2 separate regions of the Homo sapiens genome follow, and region 2 is linked to region 1. The links come from fine-mapping of genetic effects on gene expression. Tissue or cell type: whole blood. Region 1 holds a variant in brackets; the other region holds the start of a gene. All regions are shown on one strand. Distances are between the middles of the regions.

Region 1 (16,400 bases):
CAACCCACCCCTTCAAGAAGAGAAATTTATTTCTCACAATTCTGGATGAAAGAAATTTGAGACTGAGTTGTCAGCAGGGTTGGTTGGTTTCTTCTGAGGTCTCTTTCCTTGGCATGTTGATGACTGTCTTCTCCCTGTATCTTCACATGGTATCTTCACATGGTCTTCCCTCTGTGTGTGTCTGTATCCTATAATGTCTTCTTCATTTTTTTTTTTTTTTTGAGGCAGAGTCTTGCTCTTGTCCCCCAGGCTGGAGTGCAATGGCTCAATCTTGGCTCACTGCAACCTCCTCCTCTCGGGTTCAAGCGATTCTTCTGCCTCAGCCTCCCAAGTAGCTGGGACCACAGGAGTGTGCCACCAAGCCCAGCTAAGTTTTGTATTTTCAGTAGAGATGGAGTTTCGCCCTGTTGGCCAGGCTGGTCTTTAACTCCTGGCCTCAAGTGATCCACCCGCCTTGGTATCGCAAAGTGCTGGGATTACAGGCGTGAACCCTGTCACCGGACCACAATTTATGCCTTTCTATTACACACTGAGGTCAGAAACTACCGTTTGGGAAGATCCTCTGTCCCTTCATCCTCGTCTGTCTCAGCCTCTAACTGCCTGCCTAGCCACCTTTCTAAAAATAAAAACTGCTTTCTCCTTTTCAGAGGAATTTAATGACTGGGGTGGCTAACTAAGAGCTGTGCTCATCTCAGATAAAGTTCATGGCAGAATCAGATTTTTTTTTTTGAGATGGAGTTTCACTCATTGCCCAGGCTGGAGTGCAATGGCACGATCTCAGCTCACCGCAACCTCCGCCTCCCAGGTTCAAGCGATTCTCCTGCCTCAGCCTCCGAAGTAGCTGGAATTACAGGCACCCGCTGCCGTGCCCGGGTAATTTTTGTATTTTTAGTAGTGATGGTGTTTCACCATGTTAGCCAGGCTGGTCTCGAACTCCTGACCTCAGGTGATCCGCCCATCTCAGCCTCCCAAAGTGCTGGGATTACAGGCGTGAGTTACCGCGCCCAACCTAGACACTTCTTCAAGAATCTGGTTCTAGGTCAGGTGTTGGGAGCAAGCCCCCCAAAATCTGGCCATAAACTGGCCCCAAAACTGGTCATAAATAAAACGCAACATGTCCATAATGGCCATAACACCCAAGCTGGAAGGTTGCAGGTTTACGGGAATGAGGGCAAGGAACACCTGGCCCACCCAGGGCGGAAAACTGCTTAAAGGCATTCTTAAGCCACAAACAAAAGCCTGAGTGATCTGTGTCTTAAGGGCGTGTTCCTGTTGCAATTAAGTAGGCCCAAGTCTTGAGGATTAGCATTCTTGATTTTACGTTATTTGATGCAGAAAGGGAGTCAGATACAATCTATAAGAGCAGGAAATCCCCAAGTATGTTTTAGCAGGGAAGGCATGACACAATTTCTTCAGAAGTAAACTTACCCTCCTAATTATGGATGCCTGGGATTACAATTACAGATAAATAGCATTTCCAAAGACTAAGGTTCTTCCTGCTTCCTTCTCCAAAGCCCTTCTGGCAAAGCTCCCTGAGCCGTAGGTGCTGCAGAGGTGGGTGAGGCAGGCTCGGGGAGCAGGCCTGACCAGAGGCCCAGAGGCGAGAGCAGGACAGAAGTAAGATGCCTTGTCTGTATTCCCCTAGAAGGGAGGGCTTGCCACCCAGCTGCAGGGACTCCAGGGCTCAGCTGCAGGGTCTCCAGGACTCAGTTGATTTGTGCTCTGCCTCAGCTGTAAAGTGGCCCCACACACAGTCATGCCCCCTCCTGGGGCAGCCTGCATCTGGTTGCCGAATGAAGTGGGGACCTAATCTTAGATGCTGACAAGCAATCCTCACTCCCCACCTCTACTAGGGGCTCCTGAGCATTTTGTCAGGCCCGCATCACAGTTCAACTTGTTCCTGGGCCTGATCCTGCTTCTTCCCTTTCCTTTCAGAGGTGCTGATCCTTAATAAGCATATTGTATCCCCAAACTCCTTTTTAATGTCTGCTGGAAAACCCACCCTGTGACAGTGGGTTAGGCGATAGAGAGTAGGCCCAGCTGCAGATATAGAAAGAAGAGGTCTCTCTGGCCAAGTCTAACCCACATCAGCTCTGGGGCCCCGTTTGAGGAAGAGATGTTCTAGCTGGTGGGCAAAGCACAGTGCTGTACACAGAAGGGCCGGTGGTGCTCAGCTCCAGGGGGCCTGTCAAAGGCAATGTGCATCTTAACTGTGATTCTGTTCTGTTCCCCATCATATCCCGATGTAGGCCCTTACCGTATTTCTCCTGAATCATTTTGTAGTCTTCTAATTCTTCTTGTCTTTCACCAGACTGATCTTTCTGAAACCCATATCTGATTATGTCATTCTCTTCCATAAAACCTTTCAAAGACTCCCCTTAAACCTCAGGATCAGGCCCAAATGACTTAACTTGAATTATCATTGCCTTGAGATCTGGCCTTGGTTTGCTGTAAGCTTATCTCTTGCAGCTCTGGACTCAGTCAGCCCCTTTCCCATTTCTCACCATTGCCACTTAATGGTCTGAGGGGGGCTTTTCCTGTTACTGCACGCACCAGAGCCAACAGCTGAAAACAGTAGGCAACAGTACTCTCCCTACTAAAGAGCGCTGCCAACTTAGGCACAACCACCTTCCTGGGGCTTTTTAAGAGTTAGCAGAGCAGCCCTGATGCCCTACCAACCACCACAAACACCCCCCACCACATCCCAAGTCTGGGGAGAATGGAGGCTGGTAGAGTGATGGAGATGGCAAAGGCAGACAGCAGAGTATCCTGAGGACATGGTCTGCCGCATTTCACACTGGAGGGCTGTGCTCTGGGCCAGGCCACTCAGCAGAGGGGCAGACTATTGGGTTGGGAGCAGTGGAGGCGGGAAGATAGCAGAGGTGTGCAATGCCTAACCTTGTTTTTTACTCTAGCTCGCTACTTTAAATTTTCCCTTTTTTTGTCTCCTTAATTCCCAGCCATGTTTCCCATATGAATAGACTCTCCCTGGCTGGGAAAGCCGGATAAACTCCATTTGACCTTTTGATTTACAAGACATTAAGTGCTCCATACCCAACCCCCTTCCTCAAGGAGTTAACCTGTGTAAGCAGATCCTCAGCATTTCATAGGAGCCCAGTTAACTGATAAGGTACTGGAACAAACCATGTATGAAGTTCCCAGGATTTTTCTCAAAGAGATAACAACATAAAGCCTTGAGTTCGTGTCCGGCATAGCATCTATATCTAACTCTAATGAAGGATTTAGAGCCCTGCACCTGGTACCGTTGCTTTTTGTAATCATTTGTCTTTTAAATTGTTTATCTCTCTGTAACCATTTGCTTCTTTTGATTCTTGCATGTTTTTACTTCTGTAGAATTATTGCATTTGAGTTCCCTCCCTTTCCTAAACCAAGGTATAAAAGTTAATCAAGCCCCTTCCTCGGGGCCAAGAGAATTTTGAGCATTAGCCGTCTCTTTGGCCGCCAGCTTAAATAAAGGACTCTTAATTCGTCTCAAAGTGTGGCGTTTTCTCTAACTCGTTTGGGTGTAACAGGTGGACTTCCCATCTGGGAGCACCCAGAAGTGCTCTCATCTGAGCCCATGGCGGACCCAACACCTAAATGCCTGCTACCCCGAGGGCAAGGAGGCCAGGCTGTGTTAGCCAGAGGGTCACAGAGACCACAGAGAGGATCACGACAATGGCTGGTTAGAGAGTGACATTCACCCCATGCCCTTCTCTCTTGTCCACCCCTCACAGGAAGTGCTGGTTGTCATCAGAATTCCAGCTCCAATCTTGATAAGTGAGTTTGAAGGGTTTTTTTGTTTTTTTTTTTTTGAGACAGAGTCTCTCACTCTGTTGTCCAGGCTGGAGTGCAGTGGCGTGATTTCAGCTCACTGCAACCTCCACCTCCTGGGTTCATGCGATTGTCTTGCCTCAGCCTCCCAAGTAGCTGGGACTACAGGCACGCACCACCACGCCCAGATAATTTTTGTATTTTTACTAGAGACAGGGTTTCACCATGTTGGCCAGGATGGTCTTGATTTCTTGACCTCGTGATCCGCCCGCCTCAGCCTCCCAAAGTGTTGGGATTACAGGCATGAGCCACCATGCCTGGCTGAGTCTGAGATTTTAAACTACCTTTTAATAAACTAGAAAGCGGGATCTGAAAGAGGGTGGCTGAAGACAGTAACTCAAAAAGAAAACGATTTTGTGTTTGTGCCCCATCATTATACTTTAGAATGCTGCCATCTTCCTTACACCCCAGCAGGACCACCTGCTTCTCATATCTACTCCAGAAAAGGGTGGCATGTCAGGCAGGAGCCAGCTACACTGTGTCCCTCCAACTAGGAACTTGGATGGGCTAGGGATGCCAGCATTTCTCCCTTCCCTTCGATCTCAGCAGTAACACCAGTTGGCTGAACACTTTCCACTTGCCAGGCAGTGTTTAAATTATTGATGTGTGGCCGGGAGCGGTGGCTCACACCTGTAATCCCAGCACCTGGGGAGGCCAAGGCAGGCAGATCACCTGTGGTCGAGTTTGAGACCAGCCTGGCTAACATAGTGAAACCCTGTCTCTACTAAATATATATAATATATATTATATTTATATGTATTATTTTTGTATATGTATATACTTATGTGTATATATTATATGTGTGTATATATACACACACACAAAATTTAGCTGGGTGTGGTGGCACACGCCTGTTATCCCAGATACCTGGGAGGCTGAGCCATGAGAATTGCTTGAACCAGGGAGGCAAAGGTTGCAGTGAGCTGAGATTGCGCCACTGCACTCCAGCTTGGGCATCAGCTGTCTCAAAATAAAAAAATAAAAAAATAATGAATGTCTGTCCAATTCAAGCTTGTTATTTAAAGAGCAGACCATACCTGCTCCCTGCATGACGTCTCTTACCACCTCTAAAACTGCTGCCAGCCAGGCAGTAATGACACAGTTGGTATCTTTGCAATATTTGCTGATATTGACCCCTCCCTTCTTGAAAATTCTGCCTTATTTGGTTTGTGTGACATCACTCCCTGTGGGGTTTCTCTTCCCACTGAGTACTCTTTTTCAGACCCATAGATTGGTTTCTAGCCAGCTTTCTTGCTATGCCTCCATATTGATATAACCCTGGACTCCATTCTGAGCACTCTTCTCACTTGATTCTCTACCTTAGTAATTGTCTCCTTGACTGGGGCATTAGTTACTGCAGCTATGTGAATTTGATATGTTCAGACAGCCACACTCCAAACCCATAGATCTTTGGCTAATGGTTGGCTCTACCAGAGTGTCCTTCAGGCAACCTAAACTGATCATTTCCAAGGTTGAACATATCATCTCCCATAAAGCCAGTTCTTTTTGACATAACCCAATCAGGAGAATAATTCCTAAGACTGGAACAAGCCTTCTCTCTCTCCCAACCCCACCGATCACTTGCCAAATTCTTTTATTTCTACATTTTTTTTTCTCAGAGATAGGGTCTTGGTCTGTGTCACCCAGGCTGTAGTGCAGTGGTGGTGTCACAGTTCACTGCAGCCTTGAACTCCAAAACTCAAGTGACCCTCTTGCCTCAGCCTCCAGAGTAGCTAGGACTACAGGTGTGTGCCACCAGGCTTGGCTAATTAAGAAAAAAAATCTGTGTGTGGTGATCTGGTGATCTTGCTATGTTGCCCAGGCTATCTCAAACTCCTGGCCTCAAGTGATCCTCCCACCTCAGCCTCTCAAAATGTTGGCATTACAGGTGTGAGCCACCACACCCAGCCATTATTTCTACCTTTTAAACTAGTGAGTCTCAAACTTTGGTCTCTGAATCCTTTTACACTCTTAAAAATCATTGGTATCTCAAAGAGACTCTATGTAAATGAGCCATATTTATAGATATTTACCATACTAGAAGCTAAAATAAAAAATTTAAAAATATTTCTTTAAGAGGAAGACGCGGTCGTAGGTGCGAGGATTTCTGGTCCGCATGCTCCTGCTCCTGACTCACCGCTGTTCGCTCTCGCCGCCGAGGAACAAGTCGGTCATGAAGCCGCGCAGCAGCCATGGCTTTTAAGGATACCGGAAAAGCACCCGTGGAGCCGGAGGTGGCAATTCACCGAATTCGAATCACCCTAACAAGCCGCAGCGTAAAATCCTTGGAAAAGGTGGGTGCTGACTTGATCAGAGGCGCAAAAGCAAAGAATCTCAAAGTGAAAGGAGGAGTTCGAATGCCTTCCAAGACTTTGAGAATCACTACAAGAAAAACTCCTTGTGGTGAAGGTTCTAAGACGTGGGATCGTTTCCAGATGAGAATTCACAAGCGACTCTTTGACTTGCACAGTCCTTCTGAGATTGTTAAGCAGATTACTTCCATCAGTACTGAGCCAGGAGTTGAGGTGGAAGTCACCATTGCAGATGCTTAAGTCAACTATTTTAATAAATTGATTACCAGTTGTTAAAAAATATATATATATATTTATTTAAAATAATAAACCCATCACATATTGACATAACTAATAAGCCCACCACATATTTACAAGAATCACACATTGACACATTAACACTAACATTTCTATTAGAAAACTATTTTCCAAAACAAAAAAAATAAGAAGAGTTGCACTGCTTTACATTTTTGTAAATCTCTTAATGTCGCTTAACAGAAGGAGCTGAATTACAATATCTGCTTCTCTTGCAATATATTCAGTTGCAACCAAAATGCAATGATTTTGTTTGAAGTATACAGAGAAAAATTCATCCTCAAACAGGTAAGTAGATGGAAAAGGTAGGGGAGTTTTAACATCATTTTTAGGTAATTGTAGATACTTCTTTTGTTGCTACACCAAAGCTCAACAAGTGGTAGTTTCTTAAAGGTTAGCTGTAAAGTAGATTCTGAAATCATATCAGTGAATTTTTTGTACTCTGTTATATTAAAATCTACTGGGTTATTTTATACTTTGAATGAATCTTTTACCCCTTAATGCATGACCTTGTGACATTGTGTGCTGGGCTTTGAAAATTTTATTCACTGAGTCATGTATACCTTCCTGACATTGACCCATTTCCCTCTAAATATCAAGTAATCACATTTGATGTTTGCACCACTGTATTGCTTTGTAGGGCTGCCGTAACAGAGTACCACAAATTGTGTAGTTTTTTATAATAACAGAAATCTATTCTGTCACATTTCTGAAGGCTGGAAGTCTGAGATCAAGATGTTGGCAGGGTGGTTTCCTCCTTAAAGGGCTAAAGGAGAATCCTTTCATGCCCCTCTCTGAGTTTCTGGTGGTGGTGTGAAGTCCTTGGTATTTCTTGGCTTGTAGCTGCATTACATCAGTTTCTGCCTCTGTTTTCACAGGCCTACTTCCTTGGGTGTGGCTACATTTCTGTATCCAAATTTATACTCATAACACCAGTTCATTGAATTTGGGGCCTCCTCTAATCCAGTATGACCTCATGGTAACTCAAGTGTATCTGAAAACCCTGTTTGCCAAGGTCACAATCATAGATATAAAAAATTAGGACTTCAACATGTCTTTTTTGGAGCCACAATTCAACCCACAACACCCATTAGTGTCATCAGAAAAATGTTCAAGAATTGGGAACCTGTCAGATTCACAGGGGTGGGTACAAGTCTTCCAAAATTCTAATTTTTACCTGAAAACTTAGTTTTCATCATTGGCAAAAAATACAACTAGTAACAAACACTAAAATAAAAACTAGAAAAATTTGTTATTCTTGAAGTGAGAGGTTCACTTTATTGACTTTTAAGAAAACGTCTCCCAAATATGCAAGTCTGATAACCCTAGTTTATACTAGTAATTTTCTTTCAGGTGAAATCATATTTACCATACTAGAAGTTAAAAGTATGGTAAAACTTTTAATATAAAAGTTTTTTTCATGTTCCATAAAAAAATAAAACGGTTAGTTCAGTTCATAACTTAACTACAAAAGCGCTCTTCCTTGGGACAATCATCATATTTTACTCTGCAACTAAAATGCTTTGTATATCCTTCGTATATCGCATCACACAGAGTATTAAAAGGTTGTGGGCACAGTGGCTCATGCCTGTAATCCCAGCATTTTGAGAGGCTGAGGCAGGCAGATTACTTGAGCCCAGGAGTTTGAGACCAATCTGGGCAACAGAGTGAGACCCTGTCTTTACAAAACAAACAAACAAAAATTAGCTGGGCCTGGTGGTGCATGCCTGTGGTCCCAACTACCAGGAAGGTTGAGGTGGGAGAATTGCTTGAGCCCAGGAAGTCAAAGCTGCAGGGAGCTGAGATCACGCCACTGCATTCCAGCCTGAGCAATCGAGCAAAAACCCTACCTAAAAAAAAAAAAAGGAGGCTGGTGATTCAGGAATGATAGAAAAAAAAGGATATGTACTCAAAGGTAAAGACTTAATAAAAATTAATAATATTTATTGCTTCATAAAGGATATTTAAAAAACTTTTTTTTCCCTGTGAGTTGATGGTGGTGAAGCACGCAAGACTACTAGTGGACTTTAGTGCCTCATTGTACTAAGACACTAACAGTTTTACCCATTATTTCTTTTGCACTATTAGTGCAAATGTCAACACAGTGAAAAACCCAAATATGATCTTACTGTAATTGTGAAAATAGTTGTGACCTCATGGACCCCCTGAAAGTGTCTGTAGACCATATTTTGATAACCACGGTCCTAAAGAACTCTCCACCAACTCTACCTCTGCCTTAGGACTCATGAGTTCTTAGGAAGACTGTTACAGTAATCATCACCATAACCAGTTCTCTCTCTCTCCAAAGCTGTCCCCTTCTATCAGTCTTCCACACAGCCAGAGTGAGCGTTCAGAAAAGTATCAGTGGGACATTCTTCTGCTTAATACCCTTCAGTGAGTTCCCACTGGCTTTAAGGTCTAAACTCCTTAGCATAGGACATATGATGTAAACTCTTCATCTAGCAATGACTTATGTTTTCCACCTGTTCTCCAGCCATATTCTCCACATGTCTTCCAATTCAGCCAGACCAGTTCTCTTAATCTATCATGCTGTTCTCCCTGCCAGGAATATCCTCATCTCCTCACTTTTTATCTGGCTAAATCTTTACTTACTTTTAAAAGTCAGCGTCTGTTATCTCCTCCAGGAAGACACCCTGGATCATCTTCCTGGTTCATCAAAAGGATTAGCAGATTTTCCTTCTCTATATTTCCATGACATCGTGTGCTTAGTTCTATTATAGCATTTTTTTTTTTTTTTTTTGAGACAGAGTCTTGCTCTGTTGCCTGGACGGGAGTGCAGTGGCACGATCTTGGCTCACTGCAAACTCCACCTCCCAGGTTCAAGCAAATCTCCAGCCCCATCCTCCCAAGTAGCTGGGACTACAGGTGCACACTACCATGTCCAGCTATTTTTTTT[C/G]TATTTTTTAAAATTATTATACTTTACGTTCTGGGGTACATGTGCAGAATGTGCAGGTTTGTTACATAGGTATACATGTGCCATGGTGGTTTGCTACACCCATCAACCCATAATCTACGTTAAGTATTTCTCCTAATGCTATCCCTCCTTTACTCCCTGCAACCCCTGGCAGGTCTCAGTATGTGATGTTCCCCTCCCTGTGTCCATGTGTTCTGATTGTTCAGCTACCACTTATGAGTGAGAACATGTGGTGTTTGGTTTTCTGTTCTTGTGTTAGGTTGCTGAGAATGATGGTTTCCAGCTTCATCCATGTCCCTGCAAAGGACAAGAACTCATCCTTTTTTATGGCTGCATAGTATTCCATGGTGTATATGTGCCACATCTTCTTTATCCAGTCGATCATTGATGGGCATTTGGGTTGGTTCCAAATCTTTGCTATTGTGAACAGTGCCACAATAAACATACATGTGCGTATGTCTTCATAGTAGAATTATTTTTAATCCTTTGGGTGTATACTCAGTAATGGGATTGCTGGGTCAATTAGTATTTCTAATTCTAAATCCTTGAGGAACCACCACACTGTCTTCCACAATGGTTGAATTAATTTACACTCCCATCAACAATGTAAAAGCATTCCTATTTCTCCACATCCTCCCCAGCATCTGTTGTTTCCTGACTTTTTAATGATTGCCATTCTAACTGGCATGAGATGGTATCTCACTGTGCTTTTGATTTGCATTTCTCAAATGACCAGTGATGATGAGCTTTTCTTCATATGTTTGTTGGCTGCATAAATGTCTTCTTTTGAGGAGTGTCTGTTCATATCCTTTGCCCACTTTTTGATGGGGTTGTTTTATTCTTGTAAATTTGTTAAAGTTCGTTGTAGATTCTGGATATTAGCCCTTTGTCAGATGGATAGATTGCAAAAATTTTCTCCCATTCTGTAGGTTGCCTGTTCACTCTGATGATAGTTTCTTCTGCTGTGCAGAAGCTGTTTAGTTTAATTAGATCCCATTTGTTAATTTTGGCTTTTGTTGCCATTGCTTTTGGTGTTTTAGTCATGAAGTCTTTGCCCATGCCTATGTCCTGAATGGTATTGCCTAGGTTTTCTTCTAGGGTTTTTATGGTTTTAGGTCTTATGTTTAAGTCTTTAATTCATCTTGACTTAATTTTTGTATAAGGTGTAAGGAAGGGATCCAGTTTCAGTTTTCTGCATGTGGCTAGCCAGTTTTCCCAACACCATTTATGAAATAGGGAATCCTTTCTCCATTGCTTGTTTTTGTCAGGTTTGTCAAAGATCAGATGCTTGTAGATGTGTGGTATTATCTCTGAGGCCTCTGTTCTGTTCCATTAGTCTATATATCTGTTTTGGTATCAGTACCATGCTGTTTTGGTTACTGTAGCCTTGTAGTATAGTTTGAAGTCAGGTAATGTGATGCCTCCAGCTTTGTTCTTTTTGCTTAGGATTGTCTTGGCAATGTGGGCTCTTTTTTAGTTTCATATGAAATTCATACTAGTTTTTTTCCAATTTTTTGAAGAAAGTCAATGGTAGCTTGATGGGGACAGCACTGAATCTATAAATTACTTTGGGCAGTATGGCCTTTTTAACGATATTGATTCTTCTTATCCATGAGCATGGAATGTTCTTCCATTTGTTTGTGTCCTCTCTTATTTCATTGAGCAGTGATTTGTAGTTCTCCTTGAAGAGGTCCTTCACATCCCTTGTAAGTTGGATTCCTAGGTATTTTATTCTTTTTGTAGCAATTGTGAATGGCTCTCTGTTTGTCTGTTATTGGTGTATACGAATGCTTGTGATTTTTGTACATTGATTTTGTATCCTGAGACTTTGCTGAAGTTGCTTATCAGCTTAAGGAGATATTGGGCTGAGATAATGGGGTTTTCTAAATATACAATCATGTCATCTGCAAACAGAGACAATTTGACTTCTTCATTTCCTAATTGAATACACTTTATTTCTTTCTCTTGTCCAATTGCCCTGGCCAGAACTTCCAATATTATGTTGAATAGGAGTGGTAAGAGAGGGCATGCTTGTCTTGTGCCGGTTTTCAAAGGGAATGCTTCCAGTTTTTCCCCATTCAGTATGATATTGGCTGTGGGTTTGTCATAAATAGCTCTTATTATTTTGAAATACGTTCCATCAATACCAAGTTTATTGAGAGTTTTTAGCCTGAAAGGCTATTGTATTTTATCGAAGGCCTTTTCTGCATCTATTGAGATAATCATGTGGTTTTTGTCATTGGTTCTGTTTATGTGATGGAGTACGTTTATTGATTTGCATATGTTTAAACAGCCTCGCATCCCAGGGATGAAGCCAACTTGATCTTGGTGGATAAGCTTTTTGATGTGCTGTTGGGTTTGGTTTGCCAGTATTTTATTGAGGATTTTCGCATGGATGTTCATCAGGAATATTGGCCTGTAATGTTCTTTTTTTTTGTTGTGTCTCTGCCAAGTTTTGGTATCAGGATGATGCTGGCCTCATAAAATGAGTTAGGGAGGATTCCCTCTTTTTCTATTGTTTGGAATCATTTCAAAAGGAATGGTACCAGCTCCTCGTTGTACCTCTGGTAGAATTCGGCTGTGAATCCGTCTGATTCTGGATTTTTTTTGGTTGGTAGATTATTAATTACTGCCTCAATTTCAGAGCCTGTTATTGGTCTATTCAGGGACTCGACTTCTTCCTGGTTTAGTCTTGAAAGGGTGTATGTGTCCAGGAATTTATCCATTTCTTCTAGATTTTCTAGTTTATTTGCACAGTGGTGTTTATAGTATTCTCTGATGGTAGCTTGTATTTCTGTGGGATCAGTGGTGATATCCCCTTTATCATTTTTTATTGCTTCTGTTTGATTCTTCTCTCTTTTCTTCTTTATTAGTCTGGCTAGCAGTCTATCTGTTTTGTTGATCTTTTCAAAAAACCAGCTTCTGGATTCATTTATTTTTTTGAAGGTGTTTTTGTGTCTTTATCTCCTTCAGTTCTGCTCTGATCTTAGCTATTTCTTGTCTTCTGCTAGCTGTTGAATTTGTTTGCCCTTGCTTCTCTAGTTATTTTAATTGTGATGTTAGGGTGTAAAGTTTAGATCGTTCCTGCTTTCTCTTGTGGGCATTTAGTGCTATAAATTTCCCTTTAAACACTGCTTTAAATGTGTCCCAGAGATTCTGGTATGTTGTGTGTTTGTTCTCATTGGTTTCAAAGTACATCTTTATTTCTGCCTTAATTTCATTATTTACCCAGTAGTCATTCAGGAGCAGGTTGTTCAGTTTCCATGTAGTTGTGTGGTTTTTAGTGAGTTTCTTAATCCTGAGTTTTAATTTGATTGCACTGTGGTCCGAGAGACTGTTACGACTTCCGTTCTTTTGCATTTGCTGAGGAGTGCTTTACTTTCAATTATGTGGTCAATTTTAGAATAAGTGTGATGTGGTGCTGAGAAGAATGTATATTCTGTTTATTTTGGGTGGAGAGTTCTGTAGATATCTATTAGGTCTATTGTTCCAGAGCTGAGTTCAAGTCCTGAATATCCTTGTTAATTTTGTCTCATTGATCTGTCTAATATTGACAGTGGAGTGTTAAAGTCTCCCATTATTATTGTGTGGGAGTCTAAGTTTCTTTGTAGGTCTCTAAGAACTTGCTTTATGAATCTGGGTGCTCCCGTATTGGGTGCATATATATTTAGCGTAGTTAGCCCTTCTTGTTGCATTGATTTCTTTACGATTGTGTAATACCCTTCATTGTCTCTTTTGATCTTTGTTGGTTTAAAGTCTGTTTTATCAGAGACTAGGACTTCAACCCCTGCTTTTTTTTGCTTTCCATTTGCTTGGTAAATATTCTTCCATCCCTTTCTTTTGAGCCTATGTGTGTCTCTGCACATGAGATGGGTCTCCTGAATACAGCACCATTGATGGATCTTGACTCTTTATCCAATTTGCCAGTCTGTGTCTTTTAATCGGGGCATTTAGCCCGTTTACATTTAAGGTTAATATTGTTATGTGTAAATTTAATTCTGTCATTATGGTGCTAGCTGGTTATTTTGCCTGTTAGTTGGTGCAGTTTCTTCATAGTGTCGATGGTCTTTACAATTTGGTATGTTTTTGCAGTGGCTGGTACCGGTTGTTCCTTTCCACATTTAGTGCTTCCTTCAGGAGCTCTTGTAAGGCAGGCCTGGTGGTGACAAAATCTCTCAGCATTTGCTTGTCTGAAAAGGATTTTACTTCTTCACTTATGAAGCTCAGTTTGGCTGGATATGAAATTCTTGGTTGAAAATTCTTCAAGAATGTTGAATATTGGCCCCCATTCTCTTCTGGCTTGTAGGGTTTCTGCTGAGAGATCCGCTGTTAGTCTGATGGTTTTCCCTTTGTGGGTAAGCCGACCTTTCTCTCTGGCTGCCTTAACATTTTTTCCTTCATGTCAACCTTGGTGAATTTGACGATTGTGTGTCTTGGGGTTGCTCTTCTGGAGGAGTATCTTTATGGTGTTCTCTGTATTACCTGAATTTGAATGTTGGCCTGCCTTGCTAGGTTGGGGAAGTTCTCCTGCATAATATCCTGAAGAGTGTGTTCCAACTTGGTTCCATTCTCCCCATCACTTTCAGGTACACCAATGAAACGTAGATTTGGTCTTTTCACATAGTCCCATATTTCTTGGAGGCTTTGTTTGTTTCTTTTCATTCTTTGAAAATACTATAGTATTAAATAATGATAATTATAACAAATCTTGTCTTCTCACTTTATTTCATTAAGTTCATCTTCAATCTGTGATATCCTTTCTTCTGCTTGATTGATTAGGCTATTGATACTTGTGTATGCTTCACGAAGTTCTGGTGCTGTGTTTTTTAGCTCCATCAGGTCATTTATGTTCTTCTATAAACTAGTTATTCTAGTTAGCAATTCATCTAACCTTTTTTCAAGGTTCTTAGCTTCCTTGCATTGGATTAGAACATGCTCCTTTAACTCGGAGGAATTTGTTATTACCCATCTTCTAAAGCCTACTTCTGTCAATTCGTCAAACCCATTCTCCGTCCAGATTTGTTCCCTTGCTGGCAAAGAGTTGTGATCCTTTGGAGGAGAATAGGCATTCTGGTTTTTGGAATTTTCAGCCTTTTTGTGCTGGTTTATCCCCATCTTCATGGATTTATCTACCTTTGGTCTTGGATGTTGGTGACCTTCGGATGGGGTTTTTGTGTGGACATCCTCTTTGTTGATGTTGATGCTATTCTTTTCTGTTTGTTAGTTTTCCTCCTAACAGTCAGGCCCCTCTGCTGCAGGTCTGCTGGAGTTTGCTGGAGGTCCACACCAGACCCTGTTTGCCTGGATATCACCAGCAGAGGCTGCAGAACAGCAGATTGCTGCCTGTTTCTTCCTCTGGAAGCTTTGTCCCAGAGGGACACCTGCCAGATGCCAGCCAGAGCTCTCCTGTATGAGGTGTCTGTCGGCCCCTACTGGGAGGTGTCTTCCAGTCAGGATACACAGGGGTCAGGGACCCACTTGAGGAGGCAGTATGACCCTTATCAGAGCTCGAACGCTGTGCTGGGAGGTCCACTGCTCTCTTCAGAGCCATCAGGCAGGGACGTTTGAGTCTGCTGAAGCTGCACCCACAGCTGCCCTTTCCCTCAGGTGCTCTGTCCCAGGGAGATGGGGGTTTTATCTGTAAGTCCCTGACTGGGGCTGCTGCCTTTTTTTCAGAGATGTGCTGCCCAGAGAGGAGGAATCTAGAGAGGCAGTCTGGCTACAGTGGCCCTGCTGAGCTGCGGTGGGCTCCACCCAGTTTGAACTTCCTGGCGGTTTTGTTTACACTGTGAGGGTAAAACCACCTACCCAAGCCTCAGCAATGGCGGATGCTCCTCCCCCGACGAAGCTTGAATGTCCCAGGTCAACTTCAGACTGCTGCGCTGGCAGCGAGAATCTCAAGCCAGTGGATCTTAGCTTGCTGGGCTCCGTGGGGGTGGGACCCTCTGAGCTAGAACACTTGGTTCCCAGGCTTCAGCCCCCTTTCCAGGGGAGTGAACGGTTCTGTCTCGCTGGCATTCCAGGTGCCTCTGGGGTATGAAAAAACAACTCCTGTAGCTAGCTCAATGTCTGCCCAAACGGCCACCCGGTTTTGTGCTTGAAATCCAGGGCCCTGGTGGCATGGGCAACTGGAGGGAATCTCCTGGTCTGCAGGTTGCAAAGACCATGTGAAAAGCACAGTATCTGGGCCAGAGTGCTCTGTTGGCCACGGCACAGTCCCTCACGGCTTCCCTTGGCTAGGGGAGGCAAATCCCCCGACCGCTTGTGCTTCCTGTGCTTCCTGGGTGAGGCTACACCCCACCCTGCTTTGGCTCGCTCTTCGTGGGCTGCACCCACTATCCAACCAGTCCCTGTGAGATGAACTGGGTACCTCAGTTGGAAATGAAGAAATCTCCTGCCTTCTGCATGATCTCACTGGGAGCTGCAGACCGGAGCTTTTCCTATTCGGCCATCTTGCCAGCACCAATTTTTTTTTCATTTTCAGTAGAGGCGAGGTTTCCCCATGTTGGCCAGGCTGGTCTTGAACTCCTGACCTCAGGTGATCCACCCGCCTCGGCCTCCCGAAGTGCTGGGATTACAGGCATGAGCCATTGCGCCTGGCCTATCATAACATTTTTAATATCATATTATAGTATTAAATAAAGATAATTACCATTATTATAACAGCGAACATCTATGCACTACTTGCTGGACACTGTGTCAAGCACTTTAAATGCATCGTAATTTCTGGCATATTAATTTATTAATCATATTAAGTCTTCAAGTTCCTTAACCTCAGGGTATGGGAGGTAAGAGAGCAGTAAGGTTCATAGTTTTTCTTTTTCTTTCTATTTATTTATTTATTTATTTATTTTTGAGATGGAGTTTCACTCTTGTCTCCCAGGCTGGAGTGCGATGGTGCGATCTCAGCTCACTGCAAACTTCGCCTCCCGGGTTCAAGCAATTCTCCTGCCTCAGCCTCCTGAATAGCTGGGATTACAGGCATGTGCTACCACGCTCAGCTAATTTTGTATTTTTAGTAGAGA
Region 2 (16,400 bases), 29 kb after region 1:
AAGCTAGAAAGAGCCTTAGAGGTAACCCAGTGGACTTGTCTGTAAACCCTGCAGCTCATCAGCCTTGCCTGGGAAATTTGTTAACAATTATAGATACCCAGCGTCTGACCCCAGAACCATTATATCCTGGGGAGGAGAATGAGCATTTATACTATAAACAATTTCAGCAGGTGACTCCAAAGTTCAGCCAGGCTTGAAAACAACTTATTTTGTCCAACTGCCCTTGTTCATAAAGTAGTAAACTGAGAACAAGAAAGGGCAAGTGCCTTAGCTGAGGTCTGCAGGCTGGTTGTGAGAGTTTAATGTGGAATGCAGGCCTGCTGTCTCCTAAACTGGTGTGCTGTGTGTTATGTGGCCTCTCTCATAAAATATTGGCTCTCCTTGGGGTGAGATGTAGAAAACACATGTGAGTAAAACACAGTCAGTGATGGGGTAATCCTTTTAACTGAATGTTCAAGTCACCAGGACTCAGCGCTGGCCGTCACTTGCTGTAACTAGTCATATATTTTGGTTAAGAATTCAGCATCACTGGGTGGGTGCCGTGGCTCATGCCTGTAATCCAGCACTTTGGGAGGCTGAGGTGGGCGGATCACCTGAGGTCAGGAGTTCAAGACCAGCCTGGCCCACATGGTGAAACCCTGTCTCTACTAAAATACAAAAATTAGCTGGGTGTGGTGGCGGGTGCCTGTAATCCCAGCTACTCGGGAGGCTGAGGCAAGAGAATTGCTTGAACCTAGGAGGCGGAGGTTGCAGTGAGCCAGGATCGCACCACTGCACTCCAACCTGAGAGACAGAGCGAGACTCCATCTAAAAAAAAAAAAAAAAAAGAAATCAGCTTCACTGGCTGTGTGCCACGGCCCATGCCTGTAATCGCAGTACTTTGGGAGGGTGAAGCGGGCAGATGACTTGAGATCAGAAATTCGAGACCAGCTTGGGCAGCATGTTGAAACCCCGTCTCTACAAAAAACACAAAAAATTAGCTTGTTGTGATACAGGCGCCCGCCACCATGCCTGGCTAATTTTTTGTATTTTTAGTAGAGACAAGGTTTCACTATGTTGGCCAGGCTGGTCTCGAACTCTTGACCTCAGGATCCACCAGCCTCTGCCTCCCCACGTGCTGAGATTACAGGCGTGACCAAAAACAACCTTAATTTCCAGCTGTAGGAGAATGGTTGAATAATTTACGACGCATTCACATATTGTTAATAGCTACCGCTTATTCTGTGCTTACTGTGCCAGGTATTGCTTTAAGCACTTTTCTTGTTATTAATTAATTTATTTTTTTTGAGACAGAGTCTCTCTCTGTTGACCAGGCTAGAGTGCAATGGCGTGATCTCAGCTCACTGTAACCTCCACCTCCCAGGTTCAAGCAATTCTCCCTGCCTCAGCCTCCTGAGTAGCTGGGATTATAGGTGCCCACCACCATGCCTGGCTAATTTTTGTACTTTTTAGTAGAGACGGGGTTTCGCCATGTTGGCCAGGCTGGTCTTGAACTCCTGACCTCAGTTGATCCATCTGTCTCAGCCTCCCAAAGTGGTGGGATTACAGGTATGAACCACCATGCCCGGCCCATGTATTAGTTAAAATAACTTTATGGGGCAGATACTATTATCCTTACTTTACAGTTAAGGAAACAGAGCCAGAGAAGTTAAGTAATTTGTCCAAAGTCACCAAGCTAGGAGGTAGAAGAGTCAGGATTCAAACCTGACTTGAGAATCCTCTCAACCACGAAACTGTCTCTTGTATAGCCAACCATTAGTACAATAAACCACTAATAATTTGCTGAAGAATGCTTGCTTTGCATGTAATAAGGGCTAAACTGAATGACTACATTTATTGTTAAATACACATAGGAAATGCTTATGACATATTTAAATGGGGGAGAAAAGCCGGATATCACTGTACATACATTATAATTTTAACTATAGAAAGTTGCAGAAAAATGCCCAGGAAGAAAACAGGCCAAATGGTTCAATTCTGTTTGTGGTTGATGGGCTGACAATTTTTCCTCCTTGCTTCTTTAACTTTGTCTGACTTTTCTGAATTTTCTAAAGCAAATGTTAACTGTAACATCAGAAAAAACACTATTAAAAACATGAGACCTTACGGACGCAGGCTCGGGACAGATCACCACCAGGCAGCAAACACTGATCCTCCTCCACTCAAAGAAATTAACTGCAAAGAACTTTCATTGACCTGTGTAACCTCTTGCACAAAACATTGACTATCCCTACGATTTATTCTAACTGTCATCCTTAGATCATTAATACATAGGAGGCAATTTCTACTTTGGTTCTGATAGAAGTCTCCCAAGAGAAGCCAATTTCCTGAATCTTTTTGAGAGAATTTATTATAAGCATCTTTGCTTCCTCAGAGTCCCCGAGCTCTTGTATTCCCTGCCATTATCAGTGTATCTGGTCTCCTGGGCATAGCTTATGAGTAGATGTTCAATACATGAAAATCATTATTACGAACTGAGATATTTTGCTAAAACACATGTGATTTGGGAACAGAGTCTTGGTTTCTCCTCGTATCTTCCCAGGGACTTAGGATGGGGTTGGACACAGAAGATAATTGGGTGAAGGGCAGCCTAACTACTCATGTGCCCACATGATACGTATATGTCTATTTCTCTGACCTATCCTGATCTCGCCATGCCCATGTTCTACTCTGAGGTTTCTGGAGCCAGCAAGTCACTTCTTGCTGTACTTGGGGCTGTGGGGCCAGCCATCCTCCCAGTCTTGTGGCTGTGATCCTTTCATGAGACCTGTTTCTAGTTTCCAGCCCCTGCATTCTAGCACTCTTCTTCTCTGCCCCCACTCTGCTTTATCAGCCCATCTGTGCAGGTCTGCCTCACAGCAATCAGCAGGAGCCATCCCTGTGTGCTTAAATTAGAGATGCTGTTATTCTCTCTCTCTCTCTTTTAATAAAGAAAAGGAAGTCATTTCTTATAGTTATGGAGGCTGAGGAGTCCAAGGTCAATGGACTGTATCTGGTGAGAGCTTTCATGCAAGTGGGGAGTCTGCAGAGTTCTATAGTGGCACAGGGCATCACACGGCAAGGGGGCTGAGCATGCTGCTATTTTCTTTCTACTTTTAAACTTGAGTTCTACAGACTTAGTAGACTAGCTGTGAACATATATATATATATATATATATATATATATATATATATATATATATATATATATAAAATCATCCATAAGGCTGGCAGCACTGAAAGCCAACATGGTGGGCACAGGCAAACCACAGTTCTTTTAGGCCCCGAACCTATCCTCATATTAGACAACATGTACTGAAGAGGAGACGTGATATGAAGAGGAGAGCTGTGAGGTTTATTTAAGGAACTTGATGAACATCTGTAGTGGGTGGGGAAGAAAGATTTGGGAGGAAATTTTCAACTGCTTATTGTCTTTTTTTTTTCCCCTCATGAAACATCACCTCCAATTCAAGAGTGTTATGAACATATTATTTGCAAGTGGATTGTTGTAAATGAAAATTATGTGTATTAATCCGTAAGATGTCTGAAATGATGACTGAGCAATGCATTACCTAAAAATATTATATATTGGCTAAGGTTGAGGTCAAGGGTTGGGGGAGGGATGGGGAATGTGTTAGTCTGTTTGGGCTGCTATAACAAAAACACCATAAATCGGGTGGCTTGTAAACAACAGGAGTTTATTGCTTATGGTTTTAGAGGCTGGTAAGTCCAACATTAAAATAATGGCAGACTTGGTGTTCAGAGAAGGCTCAGTCTCCTGGTCATAAGTGGTACCTTCTAGCTGCAGCCTCACATGTTGGAAGGGGCTAGCTAGCTCTCTGGAGTCTCTTTTATTTTACTTTTTAATATTTATTTATTTATTTACTTATTTTTGAGAGAGAGTCTTGCTCTGTTTGCCCAGGCTGGAGTGCAGTGGCGTGATCTTGGCTCACTGCAACCTCTGCCTTCCGGGTTCAAGCAATTCTCCTGCCTCAGCCTCCCGAGTACCTGGGACTACAGGTGACTGCCACCACGCCCAACTAATTTTTTGTATTTTTAGTAGAGATGAAGTTTCACCATGTTGACCAGGCTAGTCTCGAACTCCCGACCTCAGGTGATCTGCCCGTCTCAATCTCCCAAAATGCTGGGATTACAGGTGTGAGCCACCATGCCTGGTCCGGGTCTCTTTTATAAGGGCGCTAGTTCCATTTGTGAGGGCTCTGCCCTCATAACCTAATCACCTCCTCCAGATGCCCCACCTCCAAATACCATCATCTTGGGGGTTAGGAATTCATTGTACGAATTTTGGGGGGATACAACATGCAGACCATAGCAGGAAGCTGTGGGTGGAGGGCCCAGAACTGAGATACTGTCCAGAGGGAAAGTGGGTATCTGTACTTCTCAAAAAAACCAAAACCAACCTGTCAAGGCAGGGACCCCAGAGAAAATGGGAGGAGAAGCCTCACATGTATAGACTGGGAGGACAGGATCATCTCCAAAGTAATGCCCCAGCCTCTGCCTCTCACTTATAGGTCAGAGGGTCCTAAGTGATAAGAGAGAACCTTGGTGGAGGCTGCTCCACAATGGCCCCCATCCTGGAATTTTACCAGGAGCACCCTTGCTTGCCCACTCATCTGTCTCAGACGCCCAGGAAATTTTTGCACGTGTCATATCATCTGTGCTTATCTCAGTGTTGAGATAACCTTTTCCCTTGTTTTCTCCTTAATTTGGTTTTCCAGTTCTCTGCAAAAGAGAACTGCGGAGTGGGGACTGGACAACCTCTGAAAGAGCGCCTTCTGCTTTTGTGGAGTGCAGTGGCGTGATCTCGGCTCACTGTAAGCTCCGCCTCCTGGGTTCACACCATTCTCCGGCCTCAGCCTCCTGAGTGGCTGGGACTACAGGCGCCCGTCATCGCGTGCCCGCCTAATTTTGTTTTTGTATTTTTAGTAGAGATGGAGTTTCACCATGTTAGCCAGGATGGTCTTGATCTCCTGACCTGTGATCCGCCCGCCTCGGCCTCCCAAGGTGCTGGGATTACAGGCGTGAGCCACCACGCCCAGCCCCGGTTAATTTGTTTTGTGTTTTTAGTAGAGACAAGGTTCCACTGTGCTAGCCAAGATGGTCTTGGTCTCCTGACCTCATGATCCGCCCGCCTAGGCCTCCCAAAGTGCTGGGATTACAGGCGTGAACCACCGCACCAGGCTGTTCTTAGTTCTTAAGTAATGTTGACATATGGGTGATGATGAAGGAGATGATTAAAGCTTTCAAAGAAAGTGGAAGAATGTGTCAAATTCTCTCTTCACTTCCTAGATGACTTCAGTTTCCTAATCCATAAAATAGGACTAAGACCATTACTTATCTGATGAAAAGGAGAGACAATGTAATAAATAAGGTGCTTTGAATCCTGTATTAGTCCATTGTCACACTACTGAGAAAATTATAAATTACCTGAGACTGGGTAATTTATAAACAAAAGAGGTTTAATTGACTCACAGTTCCATATGGCTGGGGAGGCCTCAGGAAACTTATAATCATGGTGGAAGGTGAAGGGGAAGCAGGGCACATCTTACATGGCGGCAGGTGAGAGAGAGAATGCAGGGGAAATGCCAGACACTTATCAAACAACCAGATCCCGTGAGAGCTCCCTATCACAAAAACATCATGGGGGAAACCGCCCCCCACGATCCAATCACCTCCCAGGAGGTCCCTCCCCTGACACATGTGGATTACAATTCAAGATGAGATTTTTGGGTGGGGACACAGAGCCAAACCATGTCAGATCTCCAAATGGTAGCTATTATTTAGATGTCCTTTTCTTCTGTCTTGTTACAGTCACTGACACAGTTCAGGCTCTTATTATATCTCCATTGATGTCAGCTTCCAATCTAGTCTCTTGCATTCTCTGCTTCTGCCATCTATTTTCCAGTGTGGTGCCAGAGGAATCCTTGTAAAATACAAAGATGCATGTCATGCTACTGCACAGAATCTTTTAATAGCCTCCTTTTTTTTTTTCCCTTTTTCGAATAGGGCCTAAAATCTTCAATGTAGCATCCTTCCAGAAATAGTCTTCTGAACTTGGCTGCTTCTATTCATTCACGCATACATACATTTTACTGTCAGGAGCACCTTCTATATGCCAAACACTAAGCTACGTGTTTCACGTAGGTCATTTCACAGGATCCTGAAAACAACGCTTTCCTTAATATCTCCATTTTGCAGAAGAGGAAAGGGAGGCTCACAGGATGTGGAACTCACCCAAGAAGGCACAGCGAGTTGGTCATAAAGATTTGAATTCACTCTGGCTGGCACTCCCTTCAATTGGAGCTCTTTGTACTGAGCAAAAATGCCTCAGGGGCAGCAGGGAAGGGAATGACAGTATCAGCAGAAGGGAGCCAGGATCAGGACAGGGAGGAAGCAGTGTTTGGAAGAAGGGTGCTGGGGACAGGGTGCGGATGTAACTTCCCTTTCCAAGGTTGGTGATGTGGGGTAGGCACCTCATTTGGAGACAGAACTCTGGGCCTGGGCTTCAGGCACTTTAAGTGTGCACTGGACTTTGTGTTCCCAGAGGACCCCCAAACCTTCCAGTATCTCCTTCCTTTCCCCTTTCCCACCCAGCACACAGCCTGGTGCCTAGTGTGCACTCAGTAGACAACTGGGATATGACTATTGCCTCTGGTAGTCACATCCTCTCTTTGGGCTATGGGAGGCTGGACTGGAGGCCTTAAAGGCCCCTTCCGCCCTCCTGTTGGGCAGTTTTTCTTTCTTAGGGAAATCGCCTTGGGGCTATCGGGGATGGTCAGTACGCAGCTTGGTTAATCCTCTTTCCTTCCCCAGCAGCCCCACCGTCGTCCGGGTGAAAAGAAAGAACCTCGCTCCCTTCACCATCCAGGCTGAGGCTTCAGTCTTTCAGCCTGCAGCTTGGGGTGGAAGCCTCTGGGTGCAGGGGTTCGAGGACGCTCCTCTCCTTCTGTATTTGCCATTTGAGAGCGCCCAGTAGGAGTCATGCCTCAATGTTAGGAGGTTAATGCCAAACGCAGTGAAAGATTTTGTTCTTTCCTATTCTAGATAAGAGCAACACGAGTCTTCGGAGAGGTTAAGCGACTTCCTCAGGGTCTCGCAGTCAGCCGGTAGCAGAGACCGGGTGTACAGCACCCGCATGTTAGGACCAAAAGCCGGACACTGCTGGATTGACCCCTCGCGGCCAAGCGGGGAAGAGGCATTTAGGGGTCCTTGCGCAGCCGCGTGGCCCCTCCCACTCGGCCCTCGATCCACCCTCCTTGAGAGCAGGCAGGATTCTAGCATCACCCAGTGCCTTCATCAAGAGTCTTTAACCCCAAGCCCGCTCGCTAGCGACCTCCAGGCCGGTTTGGGGCGCGGTGTGGCCGGTGGCGAGAGGTGGAGTGGGGGCGGAGACCGACCCAGTCTTCGCAACTCTATTTGCATACGGAGGCGACTCGCTTCCTTCCCGCCCCTCCGCCGCGCTCTTCTTCCTTCCTTCTCCAGTCCCTTCCACTGTGCGTCTTCTGTCCCCCGTTCTTCCCCAGCGGACCCCTCTTTCGAGACTCCCTAGTGGGGTCCCCAGCTCCCGGGCGATCCTGCCCTTGCCGAGCGCGTTTTCTGGAGTCACCTGGGGGAGGGGAGTCCTGGGCAGGGCCGGGCTGGGGAAGACGCCTGGGGCACTGCCCGGCGTTAACAAAGGGAGCCGATACCGACCGGCGTGGGCGCGGAGCGGGCGGCCGCCACCGAGCGTGCTGAGCAACCGCAGCCTCCGCGGCCGAGAGTGCAGCGAGTGAGTAGGGGGTGCGGTGGGCGGCGGCGCGGCCCGGGCTATCCCGGGAGGAGTGTGATGCAAAGGGGCGCGGGAGGATAGCGGAGGCGCGGGGCCCGCGGCGCGCGTAGGGCGCAGGGAATCTCTCTCCAGCTCCGCCTCAGCTGCCTTGGCTCCGGGGCTGGCCGCCTTTTGGTTGGGGGTGTGTGCATTTTTGTCAGGGCCAAAGGGCCACCCTGGCTTCTCTCTGGCTCCGCGAGCCTGCGGATCCACAACAAACCCACGTGCGCACAGCCCCGGGGAACACGGATTTCTCCACGGCACCGTCAGTATGGGGTGGGGTGGCGTGGGGGCATTGCGCCTTGCAGAGTCTGGGTTTACGGATCGACAAATTGAGGCCCGCGGCAGCGGAGGGGGCACAGGCACCATAACAAACGCACGTGCGCCCTGCCCGGAGAGCTGGACGCACTGCATACCCTTAGGGGCCGCCCTGCGGTGCCGGGCCATTGTCTCAGCCTCGGGGGAGGGAGTGGCTCTAGAGGCGCCACTTGCTGGAAGAGGGCGAGAGAGACATTTAAAAGGTACCGCTTGGGCATCAGACTAAACTGCCAGACTTAAAAAGGGAAACCAAAACAAGAAAGCAGCTACAAAAAGGTTACTCCAGGCTGAGTCGGTCCCCGGCCGTGGCGCATTCTTTTGGGTGAAGTGGACCACCCCTCACCTTCACCTCCTGGAGGTCTCTTAGAGATGTGGGTTGGGTTAAGGGTCTAAGGGTGCCCCTCAAAAAAAGAGAGTGCTGGGTGCACTATTGTCCCCGCACTCCGGCGATTGCCTCTGTGGGGATATTTTGGTCGCCTCCTCAGCCTGCGGGAAGAATGTACGAGTCGCCCAGTGCGGTCTTGCTCTTTGCCTCTGAGGCCCGTGTCCGTGTGCCCAGACACCCCAGATGTCACTAGCCCCTTTTGGCTTGTTAATGCATTTTCGCAAGCAAGGCCAGCCGAGACCTCGTATTCTAGCTGGGGACGTACAATTTTCAGTTCTGAGTTTATTTGAAAGAAATTCCGAGGTCCGGAAAAAGAGAACTCTTGTTTGTTTTGCTTTTTCTTTGCTTACATATGCTCAGCTCAGCTTTGCAGATGTTAATCGGACACGATCTGCAGCGGGGAGATGGTTTCGCGGTGAATTGGTCTCTGAGGCGATGGTGTTGGTGCAGGTTGTGGGCGTGCAGTGTGAGCAGGAATGGAGGCGCCGCCGCCCCAGTGTGTGCCTGCTGAGCGGGCGGGCTGCTGCCTCACCTTGGCTAGTGTGGCTGAAGATTAACCTGTCCCCGGGGGGGGAACTGGAGAGCCTCCAATCCTATTCCGCTGTTATTGAAAAGGTCTAGAGAGCATCTAGGGAGCCTTCTCATTTTACAGGCAGGAAGCTGAGGCCGGAGAGTTCAGCCACTTGTCCAAGTTTAAACCGGGTGAAACGGGCCACAGAGAGAACACTTGAGTGTGGGTCTCCCAACTCCCACTGCATCGCTCAGCGGGCAACTAAAGGCAAAACCGGGATTCTGTGATTGGCCTAAAAGGCAGTGGCCTTAGGCAGAATAGGGTGAAACAAAGAGTAATTCAAATAGAAAGCTGCACCCTTCCATTATCCCTTTCAAGAATTCTTTATTCTGTTGAGAAAAAATAGATTTAGTAATTCCTTACTCTCCTTCAAGCCTTTCAAAAGCTTAGTTATTTTTCTCTCCTGGCTGCCCCTTCCCCTCAAATTGGAATAAGGCCAGCTACGGAGACTCAGATGTTTTGCCTCTCATCCTTGTGCCAGGAGGCCTTTGTTTGGGCAAAAGCATGGGCTGTTGACATCAGCCCCACGGGGAAGAAAGTGTGTCTTAGCAAGCTACTCCTGAGCCACTTGTGGGAGAACAAAGCATTGTTTTCACTGATCTTATTAAAGTTACTTTTTTTTTAACGAGAGTCCCATGGAAGTAGCTGCTTATTTTTGTATTTGGCAGAGAAGTAGGAAAACCAAAAAAACACTGAGAAGCCGGATTTCCCCAAAGTTAACATGTTGTTTTGCACTGTGCCTGTTATCTCCTAGTTACACTTGTTTCTTTTCCTTAGAGTTTCCAGCGTGTTTCACTTTCAATGTGATTCTGGTAGCAACAGGAGGCAGCTGGATGCCTAGGCAGATAGGGTCAGGTACCCGGTGAAACCCCCACCTCCAGGCCAAAGACAGTTTAAAGCCTGAAAGCCAAGCTACGAGTTAAATCCTCAGACCAGAGTGAGAACTTGTTTGGCGTGCTTTCCCCTAATTGATTCCTACATTTCGCCTGTTTTACATATACCCACTTTTTCCTAATTGGTTTTCTACGCTGCCGTGCCCACCTTTGAGTGGTGTCTTTGCTTTCATCTTTTTTGCATACTCACAAACCGGTCAGCATGCACTCCCTATTCTGAGTCCATAAAAGGCCCCTGACCCAGCCACATTGGGGAACTTTTCCGTCTTCAGGTAGGGGACCAACCCGGTGTCCCCTCTCTGCTGAAAGCTGTTTTCAACACTCAATAAAATTCTTATCTGCCTTCCTCTCCCTTCAATGTCCAGTGTATCCTCATTATCCTTTGGTGTGGTGCACGAGCTCGGAACCACCGAACGCGGGTACAAGCTATAATACAGTGAGCTGGGACACACCTGCATGGCCGAGCGAGCACAGGTGGGGCATTGCTGGCCCGAGGACCAAGAAGAAAAATCCTACATCAATTCCTCTTGGCACTGCAGTATAGTTTTCTCACCAGGACGCTGACCCTGTAAGGAACTTCAGAAATCATGTGACTGGACCCTTTTACTTTCCAGATGGGAAAAGTGAGGCCTAGAGAAGAGAAATTGCTTGCCTAATGATACACAACAATGCGTGGTCTACTTTTAGTGCACCTTTTTGCGTAAAAGGGAAATGGTTGCATCAAACCAGTAGTTGTTGGTACTCCAGAGAAAAGCCAAAGTTATGGTTGTTATAACAACACCCTTTAAGTCAGAGAACCAATTCCTTATGGATTTAAATAGGTTTGGTTATTAAGCAAAGCCAGGGATCCCAGTAGTAGGTATGCTGAATAGTGCAATTATCTCTGGGGATCAGCTTTCTTTAGTGTTTGCTGAACGGTTCACTTTACTCTTGTGCTGGGTTCCTCCATGTCTCTGTCTTGTGCTTCCCCATTTAGGGGCTGCTTTGTATGAAATCATAAGGCAAGAGGCAGTGAGAAGACAGAAGAGAGAGGCGCCACTTAGCTGTTCATGCTACTTAACCTCTTGGGCTCCAGTTTCCTTCTTTGTACAGTGAGGGTTCTCCTTGCCCAGTCTCTGCACAGGCTGTTCCAGCGGAGCGGAAGATGCTCAGGCCATAGGAGGGGTTTGGGGTCATCTTCCTGTCTCTAGTATTACTTTAAAACCAGCAGGCTGGGCCAGGTGTGGTGGCTCACTCCAGTAATCACAGCACTTCAGGAGGCCGAGGAGGGAAGAGTTCGAATTCCTTGAGCTCAGGAGTTTGAGACCAGCCTGAGCAACATAGTGAGACTACCTCCCCCACCGCCATCTCTACAAAAAATAAAAGAACAAAATTAGCTGGGCATGGTGGCGTACTCCTGTGGTCCCAGCTACCTGGGAGGCTGAGACAGGAGAATCGCTGGAGCCTGGGAGGTGGAGGTTGCAGTGAGCCGCGATCTCACCACTGTACTCCAGCCTGGGGACATAGCGAGACCCTGTCTCAAAAACAGAAAATAAAACAAAACAACAACAACAGAAAACCAGCAGGCTGCCTCTGCGTTGTGTAAAGTGAGGGGAGTAAGGCGTATGAATCTCCTGGGGTTGTTGAGGGCATTAAGTCACATGATGCATTCTTATGACTGGTCAGACCTCTTGGCAGGCTTGAGTGCTTACCAGCTTTTAAAAAATTTTATTTATTTATGTATTTATTTATTTATTTATTTTTTCAGATGGCGTCTCGCTCTGTCACCCAGGCTGGAGTGCAGTGGTGCAATCTCGGCTCACTGCAAGCTCCGCCTCCCGGGTTCACGCCATTCTCCTGCCTCAGCCTCCCGAGTAGCTGGGACTACAGGTGCCCGCCACCACGCCCGGCTAATTTTTGTATGTTTAGTAAAGACGGGGTTTCACCTTGTTAGCCAGGATGGTCTCGATCAAAAATTTTATTTTTTTTAAACTTTTATTTTGGGTTCAGAGGTACATGTGCAGGTTTGTTATACAGGTAAACTTGTGTCACGGGGGTTTGGTGTACAGAGTATTTAGTCACTCAGGTACTAAACCTAGTACCCAGTAATGATTTTCCCTGCTCCGTTTCCTCCTCCCACCCTCCACCCTTCAAGAAGGCCCTGGTGTCTGTCGTTTCCCCTCTTTGTGTCCACGTGTTCTCATTATTTAGCTCCCACTTATAAGTAAGAACATGTGGTATTGATTTTCTGCTCCTGCATTAGTTTGCTAAAGATAATGACCTCCAGCTCCATCCCTGTTCCTGCAGAGGATATGATCTCATTCTTTTTTATGGCTGCATAGTATTCCATAGTATATATATATATGTACCACATTTTCTTTATCTAGGCTACTGTTGATGGGTATTTAGATCTTTGCTGTTGTGAATAGTGCTGCAGTGAACATATGCGCGCATGTGTCTTTATGGTAGAACAATTTATATTCCTTCGGGTATTTACTCAGTAATGGGATTGCTGGGTCAATGGTAGTTCTATTTTTAGTTTTTCGAGCAATCCCCACACTGCTTTCTACAATGGTTGAACTAATTTACACTCCCACCAACAGTGTATCAGCATTGCCTTTTCTTTGCAACCTTGCCAGCATCTGTTACTTTTTGACTTTCTGATAATATCCATTCTGACTGGTGTGAGACCAGCTTTTAAAGTGGTAGGGAATGTTAGTGGGAGAATGACCCCGTAGGGTAAGCTCATGTGCTCAGATTAGAAGACCTCACCTGTCACAAAGAGGTGTAAAGCAAGGCCTGCCAAACTATCAAGGGAGGCTTTGAGCAGTTGTGAAGTTTGTGTGACTCTAAGGTGACTAGAACTAGTAAAAAAAAAAAGAAAAAAACCCAGAACCTTCACACATAAGTGAGTAATATCTCAAGTCATTCTATTTATGTATTCTGTATTTACCGACAAACAGGTGGTGGGAGTGGAGGGGGTCTTGTGCTTAGCCTGGGATTACAAAGAGCATGGAGACCCACCCATTCTTTGTCCGAGGGAAGTCCAGCCTAGCTCCACCACCCTTGCTTAAAACACTTTTGGCTCTCCCTTAGAAATTGCCCTCAGGAGCTCAGAGAAAATTGATCTAATTTGTCTCAGTATTGACCTCTGGGGTCCCCTTCTCTTCATGAATAAAGGGAAGAGCAGGTGGTAAATGACAGAATACAAGAGGGAAGGCTTCAGAGAAAATCTGGCCCTCCATAAATATGAGGACATGGTTGCATTAAAAATATACAGGAATAATTCATTAATGAAATTCACAGTAATTGTTCTGGACCATTAGATTCCTGAGAATTTAGACAGGGAATTAGTTGCTCTGATGTAGTATCAGTGATTTGTTCCATAAGAACTGAATTAGAGGCAAATGAATTTTTTCTTGCTTGTCTGCAGAAAACTATACGATGGCAGTCTGACTCCTATAGATGTATTTTTGATAGGCTTATATGTAACAGTAGCATTGAGCAGTACAGTTTCACCATATTAAAATACTGAGATGATTTTCTAAGTAATTATTACACCAGAAAGGTCAGGTTAGCCTTCAGAATCAATGTAGTGATTTAAATTTTATTTATTCTGATTATAAAAATAAAGCTAGGGGCTGGGCACAGCGGCTCATGCCTGTAATTTCAGCACTTTGGGAGGCTGAAGCAGCTGGATCACCTGAGGTCAGGAGTTCAAGACCAGCCTGGCCAACATCGTGAAACCCCATCTCTACTAAAAACACAAAAATCAGCCGGACATGGTGGGCAGGTGCCTGTAATCTTAGCTACTTTGGAGGCTGAGGCAGGAGAATCGTTTGAACCCTGGAGGCGGAGGTTGCAGTGAGCCAAGATTGTATTACTGTACTCCAGCCTGGGTGACAGAGCAAGACTGTCTCAAAAAAAAAAAAAAAAAAAAAAAGAAAAAGCTTGACCATTGAGGATAATTTGGAAAGTACTGTACAAAAAAACATAGAGAAACAGAAAAAAATTCCGCTATCCAAAGGCAACCCCTCTTAACAGTTGGCAATTTTCCTTCTTCTTTTTTTTTTAAATGGATATATTTTTTGTAAATGGTTGAGAACATACTGTATGTGCAGTTATGTCTCTTGCCTTCTTGCTTAACCTTCCCATATATACATTTCATGGTTAACATTGCATTAAAGCTGTATTCTTTCATTCGTCACCCATATCAGCTGTTCGGCGTCTCCAAGGATGTGTGGGCCCCTGGGATCTGATCATTTCAGTGAGGGCCTATAAAATTTCAGGAGCCTCCAACTGCCTCTGCCTTTCCCACCATTGCCTCAGGTGTTCAGCCATCACCCGTCGGTTCTTTAGAAGTCTACAGGTACTGACAGTACAGTGGGGAGAGAAGAGGCCTGCACATGGCCTTGAGTTCCAGTCTGCCCTTGTGACCTTCAAAAACTTAACTTTAATACCCCAGTCTTCAACGTCTGCATATGTTAAATGAGCAACTCCAAGGTCACTTATTAATTTATTCACCACATATTTGAGTGCCCACTCTAAACCAAAGACAAATAAGAAGAGCTTAGTTTTTTAGAAGCTCATAGTTCAAAGGAGGAGGCAGGGGTAACAAGAGATTAGTGCAGGATGCCGTGCGACCTTGAGGAGGGAGTCACCAATGACTGGAGCAGTGGGAATGGCCTCCTGCATGAGGCCACACTGGACAGCCAACCACATCTAACTTTCTCTTATTGTAATTGACACTGTGATTAAAATATCTGTGAAGAGCCAGGAGTGGTGGCTCACTCCTGTAATCCCAGCACTTTGGGAGGCTGATGCAGGCAGATCACCTGAGATCAGGAGTTCGAGACCAGCCTGGCCAACATGGTGAAACCCTGTCTCTACCAAAAATACAAAAAAACAGCCAGGCGTGGTGGCGGGTGCCTATAATCCCAGTTACTCAGGAGGCTGAGGTGGGAGAATTGCTGGAACCCAGTAGGCGGAGGTTGCAGTGAGCTGAGATCGCACCACTGCACTGCAGACTGGGTGACAGAGCAAGACTGTCTCAAAATGAAATGAAATGAAATAAAATAAAATATTCATGAAGAAATCTCTGTTCATTTTCCAGATGATTCCCATAGGGTAGTCCTAAAGTTGAAATTACTGGGTTATACTTTAAAGGGTATGACCATTTTTAAAACTTCATGGATTTAGTTCAATTACCTATAAAGTCTTAAAGTAGCTAAATATATATTGTGGGAATGGGAAAAACTAACAGCGCAAGCAAGTCGGGATTTGCTTTCTTGCCCACTATGTATCGCCTATGTAGACTTGGACAAGCTACTTAAGCTTACTAAGCTTCAATTTCCTTCTCTGTAAAATGGGGATAACAGACCTTATCTCATAGGGTGATTATGAGCATTAGATGAAATCGTGGGTGAAAGGCTCAGTACAGTGCCAGGTATACAAGAAGCATTCAGTTAAGTAATAGCTGTTATTGTTATAACTGAGGTTTTCACAAGCCGCACACTTTTGCTCCTGATATTTTTTCTTACCATGACAGCAGGCCATTGTTTGGTTTTCTGTGCTGAGGGAAGCAGAAAGTTAATTAAAATGGAAACCCCCACCAAGTGACAAGTTGAGAGAGAAAAATGATCGTTCACATGATGCATAAAAAAAGAATAAAAGGTCTTTTTTATTAGGGAAAATTTCAAACATACAAAAGCACAAAGAAGAGTGTAAGGAACCCTATATCATATCCCTTGGCTTCAACTATGACTGAAACGCATGGCTGATCCGTAACCCCATGGTCAACCCCAGATTACGTGCAAGTACATCCCAGACATCTTATCAGCCGAGCCATAGCTATTTCAGTCACATGATACATATTTGAGGCACTGAGTTGTGCTGGCTAAGAGCCTGCCTCTGCTGTCGCAGTCATGGGACTGTGTGTGTGTATGTGTGTGTAGGGAGGATTGGGAGTCAGGAGAGAGACAGAAAGTCAACCTAGGACCTTTAGGGAGGATTGGGAGTGAGGAGAGAGACAGAAAGTCAACCTGGGACCTTTTTTTTTTTTTTTTCTTTTTTGAGACAGGGTCTCGCACTGTCACCCAGGCTGGAGTGCAGTGGGATGATCATGACTTGCTGCAGTCTCTGACCTCCCAGGCACAAGCGATCCTCCTGCCTCAGCCTCCGAGTAGCTGGGACTACAGGCATGCACCACCACACCCAGTTAATTTTATTTATTTTTTTTGTAGAGATGGGTGTCTCACCGTGTTGCCCAGGCTTGAACTCCTGGGCTCAACCGATCCTCCTGCCTTGGCCTCCCAAAGTGCTGGGATTACAGGCATAAGCCACTGTGCCCAGCTTCCAACCTGGGCACTTCTTAAGCTTTACTGCCCAAGTAAGGAGGCCTTGCTGTGTCACAAATAGACAGGGTGGAAGGAGCACTGAATTCGGAGT

The links.
Region 2: ST6GAL1 starts here. The variant in region 1 is fine-mapped to the expression of ST6GAL1 in whole blood (INTERVAL, PIP above 0.99).

The regions. Positions count from the first base shown.
Region 1 is chr3:186,894,172-186,910,571 of GRCh38, forward strand. It overlaps the pseudogene RPS20P14. Among named protein-coding and RNA genes, the nearest start is that of ST6GAL1, 28 kb to the right of the region's middle. RefSeq lists enhancers at 634-1,154, 2,717-3,237, 3,238-3,757, 3,758-4,278, 14,762-15,457 and 3 more. The variant C/G (reference allele first, on the strand shown) is at 9,358.
Region 2 is chr3:186,923,067-186,939,466 of GRCh38, forward strand. ST6GAL1 (ST6 beta-galactoside alpha-2,6-sialyltransferase 1) reads left to right here and starts at 7,460. Exons shown (of 8, transcript NM_173216.2): 1 at 7,460-7,768. RefSeq lists enhancers at 7,075-7,683, 9,777-9,826, 9,847-9,906 and silencers at 7,371-7,450, 7,691-7,880.